Linked DNA regions of Homo sapiens. Changing the gene in region 2 together with the main gene of any one other region gives a genetic interaction. Each region holds a gene or a part of one and is shown on either strand. Other genes may lie near its edges. The genes, in order: NRIP1 and YWHAQ.

Region 1 (7,284 bases), on a different chromosome or scaffold from region 2:
ATATTCCTTTCCAATTTGTTTCACCAACATCAGGAACGTGGCCAGTGTGTGGTCCATGAAAAGGTCTACACATAGGTTTCTTCTCTCTTGCTCTCTTTTCTAGGGGTGTAGACCAACGTGCACTTGGTTCATGGCACATTATCACCACTGGTCCACACAGTGCCCCCTCATCTTATTTGTTACCTTTCTCAAGAGAATAGAGGAATGGGGTCCATAAACTTTGAGATATGTTTCCAGTTGAACCAACAGACCCAACCACCTACATTAATGGTGTTGGAATACTACTCATCAGTAAAAAGTAGAGCTGGCCTGTGAGTGTTCTGGTCAACTAAAGGTATCTGGCTCTCTTTGTCTGCAAATAAATAGCAAGTCTCCCTACTTCTTTTTAAATAAAATTCCAAATGTACGTAACATGTAAAACAATGCCACTGCATGAACATGTACATAACTGTACTATTCTTTTTTTAAATTCTCAGCCTGGAAATTACATTTCAAGTACTAGAATATTCAACAAATCCTAAGACTTTTATGAAGACCATGAGAAGAAAATAAGGTACTAGAACAAAAGTGATGCAGCCAGCCAATTCTCGTTTCATGTCTCAAGACCCAGTTCTTATTATTATAGATCCCTTTGTGGGGTTAGCTTGGATTTTACTGCGGGATCCATCACCAAAGGTTATTAACTATTCCTTAACACCTGGTACACAAACCCCTCTTTCTGAGACTGCTTTGACAAAAATAAACAAAAAAGTGTGAAATAAATCAAGATTTGACTGACCATCCTAGGTCTACCCAACTGCTAGCTGAATGACTTTCAAAACGTCTTTAAATTCTTAAGGACTCAATTTCTTCCTCCGTAAAATGCAGATAGTAACTGTTTTGGGCATTTTAACTTAACAGCAATAACAAAAACTACAGGAAGATAAGTAATTATTGACCCCATTGTATCACATGGATCCCCTGGCAATTAAAAAAAAAGATGAATGAGATATTAAGAAATAAAAAGGAAAACAGAGTAAAGACAAAACAGAAATAAAGAAGGAAACCCAAAAGGAAAGAAAATGGCACATAAGCACTAAATGGTAGCATTTTATCATTATTTTATTTATAGTCTACACTAACTGTGTGCTCTTCCATACAAAAGATGCATCTAAAAACTAACTTGTTTGATAAATGGGGGGAGGACAAGGTGCCTCTAAGATAGGTGTGCTTAAATCCAGAGCAGCCGTAGCTTTTATCAAATTCTCTTCCAACCTGAAAAATCTAACGATTCTATGAAATAACTTCAATTTGTGAAAGCCCAAGCAAAAGAAATTCAAAGTTAAAAAAAAAAAAAAAAGAAAATGTGACTTTGACTCAGGTCAGTCAAGTATTACCAGGATAGATAAAAGTAGATTTTTAGCAATACAGTTAACAATGGGTCTTGCCACAATAATAGCAAACATCCAGATATTGGAAAGGAATCAGATGGTAAATTTAAAAAAGACTGTTTTCAATCCTTATATTTGGCTTCACATAGATTCAGTGTATTTTAATTCATTTTTTTTTAAAAAGCATGGATCAGTTAAGGAAATAATATAAGTTCATTCTGATCTTTAGGAAGACATTCTTCCCCCCATATTGTTCACTTTGACAATTTCTCTTTTTTCTTATTTGGCCAAAATATAACGTATTCTCTAAACAAAACACAGATGTTTCCTTTGCAGCTTTTATACAAATCTCTTGCTTTTCCAACATGATTTGGCAACTCAAAATCCAAAGCACCCTAGAAAATATTATGTTTACACGTCTTATTATTCATCTTTGTGTCTCCAATATAGTTTCAATTTGACTATACCTTTCAGTGTATAGGGAACCACTCAGCTTGAATCTTTTAGGTTCAAAAATTCCATAAATTTTAAATGAGGCAAGTAAAAGGAGGTGGAGAAGCTCATAACTCCATTTCTTATGGCTTTAACAATAAAAGAACGTACCTGGTATGTACTTAAAAATGTACTATGTGCCACAAAGCTCCCCCACTCAACAATCTCCCTCCTGACACAGTCTACCCTCAAAATAAAGTCAACTACTCCTCATCTCTCTGCTTCCACTTCCTTCCAATTCACAAATACATTGTTAATTTCCTCTTTGCATTTCAGAGAGCAGTTTATCAGCACAGGATAGTCTTTAACAAAATTGTTGTGAGTGAAGATAGGGTAATTAAAAAAAAAATCATGTTAAGAACTGTTAATAGTCAAGAGTTGTAACTTTTCAACCAGGAAGAGCTATGGTTCTGAATTTGCTACAACTGCTCCTTGAAGTGGACAAACATAACTAGCCTTGGGAACACTCAGTTTAAGACCATGACAAGCTATTTCAATGAATTATATAAAGAAACATAGTTGCTTTCACTGCCTCAAATAACACCGCAGTAATTCTGTGATACACTTCAGAAGAGTTAGCACTGGAGGGAAAAGAGCCTGTGCGGCAGCCCTTGGTGACTACATTTCCCTCCAGCGCAATGCAGGTAGCAGGACATCAGCGCTTTGAGAACTAGCATAAGCTGCTGCAGAATCATCGACTGGCAACAATGTGCCTTCCCAGAGAGCCTGGTCTTGGAGAATCCAGGCTATGAGGCTTGCAAATGCTGCATGAGTTTTATGGCTACCAGGTTGGGAGCAAGGTTTTTTAACGGCTTCCTGAATGTCAGATGGCAACTGGTTTTTTCTTCAAACAATGGCATATTCTTTAAGAAAATCAAATTATCAATGAAATTTGCCATGTGACCACAGGCAAGTTAACTATTCTTGCATTTTTCAGACTAGGTTTCCTTATCTCTAAACTAGAGAAAATGATACCTACATGTCACAGGGGAACTGGAAGGATTAAAAGACAAAATGTGTGTAAAGCTTCCAGCACAATGTCTGGCACAAAACGGTTGCCCCAAAAAGTTCAATACTCTTCCTTTCCCTGCTCCCCCTCCCAACAAAACAGGAAAAGGCAACAGCCAAGTAACTAAACAACTTCTTAATATTCCAAGTTTCTACCCAATCATCTCTTCTTCTTTTAAAACCACAGGCTTGAAATCTTTACTGTTTACTGTCAACAACGGCATATACTGCTGTACAGTCAGAATTTTAGAATTTAGAAATCAAATATAACCCCCTTATTCAACAGATGCTGCCGGGGGAGATAAAAGGGCTTTCCTTTTATCTGTATCATCTTGATTTAGTAGCAGAACCTAAACTCGAAAAATAAACGTGGAATAACAGGAATACTATTTTTTAACATGTTTTTCAAAAATCAAACCTGAGCCTACATAACCCATTGTGCAAACAGTCCCTTTAGGAGAAAAACTGCAACTGTGATTAATTTCTCTCAAGAATATTTATTTCCCATTTGGAGAGTTTCACATGTTTCCAAACATATTTTCTTGATGTCCTCCATGTCATTGTGTATTCTCTCCTTCCCTTAATTTGTTTCTTTTCCAGTGTATAAATCTATTGCTCTATTATAGATTATTATAATATAAACTCATAAATTCAGGAATTTAAAAAAAATCTTTAAAAGCATGCTTCTCAGAAATCATTACACTCTGTTAAACACTTGCTATCTCTCAACTTCTAGATAGATTCCTCAAGAGAGAAGTCCTTTTTTCATTCTGAACTTCTAATTCTCAAATTTTGATTGTGTCCTGTTAGTTACCAAACACACCATTATACTACTACTCTCATTTCAATATTGTACATAAACGATTCCCCATCTTACTAATGAAATGCTTTTTTAAAGCAGTAACATATTTAACATGTGCACATGTTATGAAGAGTATAGGCAAACTCAACTATTAAAAACATGTAACTATAAGGAAAGCCATCTTAGACACTATATGTGACTACAGCTAAGCTTTTCTCTTAAGTATCTAAAGCAAATCACCAGACTTTTACATAGTACCCTCACATAGCTAGATAAGAAAGTAAAAGTAAAATAATGAAAGCAGACTCTAAACAGCAGAAGCTCCAAACTCCTTAGTTTCTCTGTTGTGCTCAATCCTTTAGCAAATTACAGGCCTGAAAACAAGGAGTAGCTCTATCACTTAACAAGTGACTAAGGAATGACTTTGTTAATTAGAAGTCCAAGGGTGAGAGGCTCCTTTCCACCAAAGCTCTGAATAAACATCAACATCAGGTCAACCAGAGTTGTCTTGGTCCCAGGAGTAGCTTAAGCGGATGACTCAAATTCCCAGCAGAATTCTAGTTTAATATTTATTGGAACTCCGAGCTTAGTCACACAGTGACTTGGAATTTAAGACACATGGGGTCTCTTCTTTCCATCCTTAAAGATATTTTTGCTAAGTGACACAAAGTTAAAGAGGCAAGATGGGTTTTAATTTAGAGTTTTTATTCCCTGAGGTGTAAGAAATTAAAATTTTATTTTCTGGGGAGAGTGAACCATACTAGCTCTGAATTTCAAACACAACTATTAACCCTGTCAGATAATTCTATTATCAAGTTTTACAAAACTGTTTACTATTATTATTTTTTTTTGCTACCCCAGCCCTATGTATTGAAAGTGGAAAGAAGGAAGGGAGGGAAGGAGGGAAGGAGAGAGGGAGAATGGATGAATGGATGTATGTCACAATCACCTTTCTAGCCAAAACTGCAACATATGCTGGAGTTCTTGAAATTATTTCAACCAAAAAAAGAATCACAGGACTCATAATTTGTTTAGCAGGTAATTATTTGCCCCATTATCTTCAAGAACAATCTATCTTAAAACTGTGTATAGCTTTTTAAGAAATCTTAATACTAAGAGGATCCTTTTTTTCATAACCCCAAAGAGTGTTTTCTTCCTCTATTTTTGAATTGCCAGCCTTCTCAATTCTTTAAATCTGATTCACATTATACTACTTTTAGAGTTCTAGGCTAAATGTTTATCCATAGCATGATTCAAGGTATTAATTTCAACAAAATACTAATATAATGATAAAATGTATCACATTTATTTTCAACTCTTTCCTATTCTTCTGATTTAAGAACTTAAAGAAAAATATTTTATGTTTCGGGTGCATTTTGATAAGCTAAAATACCACAACTTTTGTAATTCTTCATTTGTAATATTTGCAAGATAGTGTAGGGATCAATTTGAATTTCAAGGTTCATGATATAGAGTATGTACCATAACAGTGAGAAAAGTTAGTATAAATTCCTACTCATCTCAGTTTCTATATTTATTGCAACAAATTAAAACTGCATTTCATAACTCGTAGTAAAACAAAAGGAAAGTTCTGTTTTAAATAAACTCCAACCTTCAGAATCCTATACATTCAGTATCCATCAACCTGAACACTAAATTTCAAGAAAAAACAACAGATGGGCATCCATATAATAGTTTGCAAAGAAACCCTGATAAGACTTCAGGAGTTTCTGTGGTCTCTATTTTCCCCCTACCATGAATCATAGGTAATGTGCTTAAATAAAGCATTATTTCTGCAGTTATTTACATGTTTATCTTTATCAGAGATCCTATAAAAGAATTATCCAGTTCACCACCCAAACTTTAGCACTCAGAACACGGTTTTCCCTGTTGATGAAGACCCTTGTAAAATTCCAGATCTTAAAAGATTAAAGAAAATGTGATCTAATATTAATTCATTTTCCTCCAAAGTATAACTCCTGATTCCATGCTGGTACCCAATTTTGATCCTCTACTTTAAAGATATCTCAGAGACATTCAAAACAAAGTGTGAACATGCACAAAAGGGGAACTTGTCGTTTCTCTCCCTCAAACAACCACTATTTATATAATATTGCTGGCCTCCTAAAAGAGAATAGAATCCATTACCATCAGCAATTCATGTCTCTGCTTCAGCATCAGATGCAAACAGGATACAGAAACTAGATCTCTCTCCTCCATTTACTTTTTGTTCATTCCAACCTCTCGACATAATCTTCAGTTCCATTCCAATGGCCTGTTTCACCATCTGACACTCCTGGTTTTTACCTTCTCAAGTCTTAGTGGCCATAGTGGTGTTACATTTCTCTAATTGTTGTGTTATCTAAATACTACAGGATGAGCCTGCTCATTCCCCCTCCCCCAAAAGTCCCTGAAAAAACTACAACTTAAGGAAATGCAACTTGAACCTTTTTAGTTCACAGATTCAAACTCATATCCTGCAAGACCCTAGCATATCTTGTTGAAAATTTTCTTTGACTTTTCAACAGTAGTCAAGATTATTTTAATGAAAATATTTCTCCAGTTGGAAGACATGGGTATACAGGACTTTGCTAGAACGGCAAATGCTTTTTCCCAGTCTTCATCCGTGTAACAGTAAATCGTTATTAAACAAACACACAGAACAAAACCCACTCTGATTGTGTATCAATCACCTGAAGGGGCAGAAGGGAAAAGTACAAGAGTGAAGAAACTTCTCCCCACCCACAGCCAAGAAGGAACGCTGCAACTAAGGCAGTTTTTCATGGAAGAAAATATCCAAAGATCTAGACAGTGTTTATTTTAGAAAAGGGGAAGAGAGCAAGGGAGGGAGGGAAATGGTAGGGAAGGGACTACCATTTCCTCTTACTAACCTACATTAAAAACTAATTGTATCAAGCAATCTCAAATGCGAAAAGCAAAACTGACCCTAGCACAATTTAAAGTGAATAATGTTTTCCTTGACAAAAATTCGGTATTTTAAACTCATTCTGAGCAAAATTATCTTTTAACCTGATACACCAAACTATTACTGCTTTTCCCAAACAACAGTTAGAACATGAGCTTTTGAGTTTCTTACATTCTTTACGTTTTAAAATTAAAAGCCAAATTCCTTTAACCTCATATATCCTAAGCCACTCTGATTTAAAATTACTTCTATGTCATTGTCTTCTAGCATTGGTCTGCAATAGAATCTGTGCAATTAACAATAATCTTCTTCCCTCTGATCTTTCTAGAGTCAAGGATGGCATATCTCCTTATCTTATTTGTTCCATTAGATTGGCATATTTTGCCTCATCTGTCACCTTCTATCAAACTCTGCTTTCAGATATGCGTTAATTCATTTTTAGTTGTCCTCAATGTTCTAAAATAGTGATGTTTGACAGAATTAATACAGTGCTCTAGTTCTTTCTGTTCAACTGGTATTTAATTAAAGATCTTGGAGGCCATCTTTCTCTCAGGCTACACCACTTAAAGGAGGAACATTACTTCCTCCATGGACAATGTGATAAGCCACATGGCAACAAAGCTGCCTCCCTAAGGTCTCTCATTTAATAGACTGCTTTACCACATATAAACTACCAGCAAAACAGA
Region 2 (7,284 bases):
CAGGTACGGGGTGGTGTGTGCCTACAGTCCTAACTACTCAGGAGGCTGAGGCAGGAGGACTGCTTGAATCCAGGAGGTTGAGGCTGGAGTGATCCATGATTATGACACTGCACTCCAGCCTAGGCAACAGGGTGAGATCCTTTCTCAAAAAAAAAAAAAAAAAAGAGAAACTTTTTTAAAAAGGCACTCTACTTTCAGAATAAGCAAAGTGATAGTCTCTATTCCCAGCAGCCCAATGCTCTTCTTGAAAGCACTACTGCATTATTATTACAGACTAATAAAGCAAAACATTTTCACAGGGAGGAAAAAGCCACAATCATGGTTAACAATTTTCAAGTGTGTGAAGGGCTAAACTATAGGAAAAGCAGACTTACTTTGTGTTTCTCCAAGAATTAAATAGAAGTGGGTGATGGAAGCTACAGGGAAGCAATGTGTGCATGTATAGACAGGGTTCTTGAATTAGACAGAATGTTAAAACTAAGTGGATCTTCCAGGATCTCTCTGATTTTAGGATAGGAAGATGAAGTGAAGAAGAGAAGTCAGTATTTATTGACTATAATTGCACTTTATTAGACCAACAGCAAGACATTAGTGTTAATTTCAGAAAAGCCAGAATCTTACATAATCCTTAGATTATTATGAAGATACTAAATAAAAACAAACAAAACAAAATCCCCCAAAGACCTGTCTCCATAATAGAGATAACAAAACAAAACCGATTAAAAGATAGTTAGCTCCAAGGTATACATCTGGGAAGAGGTATAACTGCCTAATTTGCTCTTCCTCTGTAGAACTATTTGCTGATCATCTTCCATTGTCCCCTCACAACCACAGGCACTTCTCATGGCTAGAAATGCAGGGTCTTCGTTCCCCTTTCAGTGGATTCATAATTACCCTATTCAGCAAAATTGAATAGACATGGTGCTAATATTTAAAAAATCCTATCTAGTAAATGATAAAGCACCAAACTAGGGGGCTGGGAGGACGAGATCTATATTAAAAGATTTGTTCCCTTCTTTTTCCTTCTGTGAAGTCTAAGATTTTACCTATCAAATTTACTTGAACCTACAAAAGAATGTTAAAGTAAAGCTTAAGCTGTACTTTTTCTTGATTACTTCCTTTATCAATTGCCTATCTAAGAAGCAGGGAGAAAAAGACAAACAAAACAGAAGCTTTTGCCTAGAAGCAGAGAAGGAGTAAGTTTAGGTATAGGTTTACTCCCTAAATGCTTGTAGAACATCATGCACAATTCACAAAGTAAACTTTTATTAGAACAAGGTACTTCCTGTGATTTTAAGAAAGCGTAGATATTTAGATAGTCCCTAACTGGCTATAGCTGATTTGCCCCAAAATATTGAAACTTGATAAGCTCTTTATTAACATAATTTATCAACATCTTCATCCCAATGAAATAGTAATATTAATATTGAGTTCCTATCATGTTAGAACCTTCTCAGGAAGGTCTGATAAAATGCCTATTCAACTTGAAAACCTGCCTACAAAATAATGTTCGTCCCATAAAATACTAACACGTATCTCATACTTTCAGCTCGTATGTATCTTCCCTAAAAGACACGAAGTCCAAAATAAAATATAAATACTTTTGTTTCTGAAAAGAAAATAAAATTAAAAGAGTAAACAACTCACTGTTAGGTTGTCTCTAAGCAACTGCATGATGAGGGTGCTGTCTTTGTATGAGTCTTCATTCAGTGTATCAAGTTCAGCAATGGCCTCATCAAAAGCCTGATAAATATTAATATCCATGGTAAAATATGTGCATTGACGAAAACTGGTTATTCTACAATTACAAACCATTTTTACAAAATAAGTGAACACCCACCTTATGTTCTACCATCAACAAACTCAACAGAACCATTCTCTCACACTCCCAGTTTAAGAACTTATGAGTATGACTGGAATTTTATAAAACTATACACTTAGTAAACAAGCATGTCTTGGTTCTTTCACAGGACAACGGAACAGCAGCAATGCTTAACAGACTTCTTTCCAGTTAAGTAGTACTTATCTCTACAGGGTCCTCTTTATTCTCTCGTTTTGAGCCACTTTGAGGAATGTGGCTGATGCACAGCTATTCTAGTAACCAAACCTGGCAGGCATGACTTTCTAATCTTTTATGTTTCCTTCTTAACATCATTTATCCTTCTTTGATTACTCTGCTCAGTATGCTCTGTAGGCACATCACTGCTTATAATCATAGGGTAGAGTAAGGTGTCAGGGGTAGGAGTAGGTAATCATGATGGGAAGAAAAAGAGGAGATTTCAAAATAAATATAGTAGAAATCATCCCTGGGTATCCAAGTAAAATACCTATAAATTAACATACCTGGTATCTCAAATAACTGTAGCTAAAGTACGTATTTCCTGGACACACATCTTACCGTTTTAGCCAGCGTGCAGGCAAGCTCTGGGTTATTAAGAATCTCATAGTAAAATACAGAAAAGTTAAGAGCAAGCCCCAGGCGGATTGGGTGTGTGGGTTGCATCTCTTTCTTGCTTATATCAAATGCCTCTTGGTAAGCTCCTTGGGAATTATCTATCGTTTCTGTGAAGAGCGAAAAATAAGAAGTGCAATATTAAAAATAACCATCCAGTACACAGTACATTAACAACTTGAACATATGCTACTAGCTCTTGGTAGAACCAAGATTTTTTCTCTGTATGGGTCTTTTAAAATCATGGTAGCTAACAAAAAACATTATCGTGGCCAGGCGCGGTGGCTCACGCCTATAATCCCAGCACTTTGGGAGGCCGAGGTGGGTGGATCACTTGAGATCAGGAGTTCAAGACCAGTCTAGCCAACATGGCGAAACCCCATCTCTACTAAAAATACAAAAATTAGCCAGGCGTGATGGCGGGCATCTGTAATCCCAGCTACTCAGGAGGCTGAGGCATGAGAATCGCTTGAACCTGGGAGGCTGAGGTTGCAGTGAGCCGACATCACACCACTGCACTCCAGCTTGGGCAACAGAACGATACTCTGTGTCAAAAACAAACAAACAAAAACAATATTGTGTACTGGGTATTTAAGAACTTGTTTATGGCCAGGTGCAGTGGCTCATGCCTCTAATCCCAACACTTTGGGAAGGTGAGGCAGGGGGATCACTTGAACCTGAAGAGTTCAAGACCAGCCTGGGCAACACAGGGAGATCTTATCCCTGTCTCTACAAAAAATAATAATAATAAAAAATAGCTAGGCATGGTAGTGCGTGCCTGTAGCTCTAGCTACTTGGGAGGCTGAGGTGGGAGGACCCCTTGAGCCCAGGAGGTTGAAGCTGCAGTGAGCCAAGATCATGCTGCTGCACTCCCAACCTCAGTGACAGTTTGTCTCAAACAAACAAACAAAACAAAAAACCAGTTTAGAATGTTGCTTACATATAAACAGCTTAATGGAAAAAAAACATGAGATATTATAGTAAATCAGACTTTTTTCCATACCTAGGCTAAAACTATTTTCTTATTTTATGTCTTTTAATTCTATTACTTGGAAATGCAGCAATTAAAAATAATTTGACTGGAATAATTTACAGTGGCTCACGCCTGTAATCCTAACACTTTGGGAGGCTGAGGCAGGCAGATCACCTGAGGTTGGAGGTACAAGACCAGCCTTACCAACATGGAGAAACCCCGTCTCTACTAATAATACAAAAATTAGATGGGAGTGGTGATGCATGCCTGTAATCCCAGCTACTTGGGAGGCTAGGCACAAGCCTCACTTGAACCCGGGAGGCGGAGCTTACGGTGAGCCAAGATCGCGCCATTGCACTTCAACCTGGGCAACAAGAGCAAAACTCCATTCAAAATTAATAATAATAATAATAATTTGACTGGAATACCCTTTCCCTAAATAATGTAAACTTTACAAAGATCATCAACACCAAAATCTCTATTTTTCTGATTTGCAGAAATACTGATTCTTAGTATCAAGTGGTATTATTTGAAAGGCAATATAAAAGTTTCAATAAATAGGACAAAATCTGCTCTGACCAGAGTTTGATTACTAGCCTAATTAAAATGTTACTCCCCCTTCAAAAAATGTTCAGTATTACCAACACTAATCTGATTATACCCATGTTTTGAAAAGGGTAGTTTTCTGTATGAGGCCACTGGCCTATTACAGCTTTAGAGATACTGACGTAAGAGAATTAAGCTATCCCTTTATGACCTGAATTATGTTCATTTTCTTTCCTCTGAAATGGCACATTTATTGATCTAATCCCTGACTGGTACAGCCCACATGCAATAAGAAGTTCTTGCAGCTTGGCAAATTAGGAAGCACCAGTGTCTCAGCAATTAGGCTATAAAGACAGCCTATCTATGAATCGCAGCCTATCAGAATGTACACAGGACTACGTGTGAGACCTGAAAGTGCCAATGAGCTCCTAAGGGTTAAATCAGGTTAAAGCTACAGCTATGTCTCAATCTCCCAAATACTTCTCTTTGGCTTTCTGATACTTAAATGTACAGTTCCGTGCCCGTATCATGTCCAATTCTGCTTACCTTCATGGCAACAGAAATTACACATCAGTAACAGAATAAGTAAGTTTAGTATATAGATTTTGTTATAGCAAGGTATAACAGTTTCTCAGGTACAAGTTCTCTTTATATATTCAGTTACACTGATATTTAGGATGGCAAAACTCTCATTTTCAGATCATAGTAACTATTTGTAGGGGTATATCTTTGTAGACAGGGCAAAATTAAGAACAAAACAACAAACTTACTGGAAAAAATAAGGACTGACACTTCTAATACCTAGAACTTGATAAATCTGGTAGCAAGCACATACACTAAATTTAATGAGATCTATCTTATATTCAGCTGCCAGTATCCCAAGAGACATTCACTGCAAATAAATTCACTTCACTTTTTTATTATCAAGTTAGGCAATTCGGTCACTTTTTCTCATATCCATGTTTTCTATGATAGTCTAGGTTAAAAAAAAAAGGTATTTAATACTAAAATCTATTTTTATGACCACTACTTGATTAATCAACAGTTCCTGTATATTCAACCTTCTCAAGTAAAACCTAACCATGAGTCATTCAAACTTACTGTGAAGTTGGAGCAAGTTATACACCAGCAATAACACACTCATTTCACCTCTCCTCAGAAATCTGATTATATGTAATTAGCAGTCAATGTTATGACCCCTTAAAATAGACGATAATGAATATGACAAACAGCAAAAGCACAACAACCTGTTTCCACGTTCTGTATGTAATTTCCAGTGATCTGAAGTTTTAAGGCATAATAGAAAGGCCATGTGAAATGCAGAATCACTCATAAAGTTTACACAAAAAACTCTGGAGCTAAAAATATGGTGAACCAAAATTCTAAAAAGCATAAAAGATTAATCCTGTTTTAAATAATACCATATGAGATTACAGAGTTCACAGATGAGCTTAATTTTTTTAAAGAGCATGTGATGTAAATTTATAATCCAATTTTCATTTTTGAGAACATAAGGTAATACTAATTTTCTTGACATACATTCAATTATTAAGTCACAAAGAGCCTGAAGACTACGTATACTGTCATAGTGTCCCATTTATCCCCATTTCTTTTTTTTATATTCTACTTTTGCCCATATAACAAATAAACTTACGTTTTCGATCATCACCACACGCAACTTCAGCAAGGTACCGGAAGTAATCACCCTTCATTTTCAGATAGAAGACCTTACTCTCTGGATTAGTTGCATTGGCTATTAAATATTTATCCAACAATTCCTGAAATAAATAAGACAGAACATTAGGCACTAAACTTCTGCCTACTGTGCATTATCATTAAATGATAAAACTTCTGCCTAGCGGGCATTTCAATCATTTACTACTACAGTAATACTATACCATACCAGCCTGGACTTGAAGCATGTTCTTAGAGCAGGGGTTAGGTTGTTGCCACTAGTTGCCCTGGGAGGCTTTAAATGATGTAGCCTATAGTTTCTAATGGTAAGGCTAGATTCTAGATTACACCAAACATTGTAATTTGAAACAGCCTATCTGTTCACTCATCCATTCATTCAACATTTACTCATACCTGCTAGGTGCTATAACGGATATAGAGAAGACTTAAAATCAGGCCCCTGCCCTCAAGAAGCTCACCGTCTGTAAGTACACCAACTACATACCAAGAACTAAGAAAGATGTGAATACGGTGCTAAGGAAGCACACAGATGGAGTAGCTCTGCTGGAGATGGCCTCCAGTTAAGACAGGCTTCCCAGGGAAAGAGTATTTGAGGCATGAAGAAGGAAAAGTAGAAATGCACCAAACAGAAAACAGGGATGTGCACTCATTTTAGGGACGGGAAACAAAATGTTTAAAACATCAAGTACGAGGGAGAATAGTGCTACTCAGTGCCCTTTGCATTCAAGTATCCATCTAAAATGAGGTAAATACAGGAATCGAGAGTAAGAGGTTTAGAAACTTGCACAGCAATTTAAAAGAATAATTTTAGGTCTACGAAATCTAATTATTTTTTTAAAAAAGTTCTTGAGTATGTCTTTTGTCCCTAATTTCATACAAAGAAATTTTCACTTCTAGTACATGGTATGCTATGCCTTGGAGTATAAAAAGTCACAAAAGACAAATATGATAGAAATCTTCTTAGATTCCATTTTTCTTGATGCTAGGTCATCCATTTAAAAACCTTTTTAGGGCCGGGCGCGGTGGCTCACGGCTGTAATCCCAGCACTTTAGGATGCCAAGGCGGGCAGATAACAAGGTCAGGAGTTCGAGACCAGCCTGGCCAACATAATGAAACCCCGTCTCTACTAAAAATACAAAAAATTAGCCAAGCGTGATGGTGGGCACCTGTAATCCCAGCTACTCAGGAGGCTGAGGCAGGAGAATTGCTTGAACCTGGGAGGTGGAGGTTGCAGTGAGCCGAGATCATGCTACTGCACTGCAGCCCGGGTGACAGTGTGGACTCCATCTCAAAAAACAAAAACAAAAACAAAAAAAGCTTTTTTGTATTAAATATTACAAAGCAAAATGAAATTCTCATAAAAATGTTAAGATACTAATACCTACTTCATTGGTTTGTTTTGAGAATAAAACCAGTAACAGATGTCAAAGCCTGGAATAGTGTCACATGTTAAGTACTCAGTAAATGTTAGCTAGTATCAGCCTAGGTACACAGTTTGAAAAGCACTGCTCTAGGAAAAGTGAAACTAGTGAACGTTTTAAAGCAGGGAAGAGAGAAGATCCTTTTTACATTTTGGAAAAATAACCACAGATACGCTCAGTTAATATTATATAAAAT

What was found.
Region 1: of YWHAQ (region 2) and NRIP1, changing one suppresses a phenotype caused by changing the other (phenotypic suppression), as found in Homo sapiens cells (one study listed by BioGRID).

The regions. Positions count from the first base shown.
Region 1 is NC_000021.9:15,054,969-15,062,252, forward strand, and holds part of NRIP1 (nuclear receptor-interacting protein 1), read right to left. Parts: intron 1-7,284. UniProt on the Homo sapiens protein: Modulates transcriptional activation by steroid receptors such as NR3C1, NR3C2 and ESR1. Also modulates transcriptional repression by nuclear hormone receptors.
Region 2 is NC_000002.12:9,585,767-9,593,050, forward strand, and holds part of YWHAQ (14-3-3 protein theta), read right to left. Parts: intron 5,750-7,284; coding exon 5,626-5,749; intron 2,563-5,625; coding exon 2,399-2,562; intron 1,744-2,398; coding exon 1,648-1,743; intron 1-1,647. UniProt on the Homo sapiens protein: Adapter protein implicated in the regulation of a large spectrum of both general and specialized signaling pathways. Binds to a large number of partners, usually by recognition of a phosphoserine or phosphothreonine motif.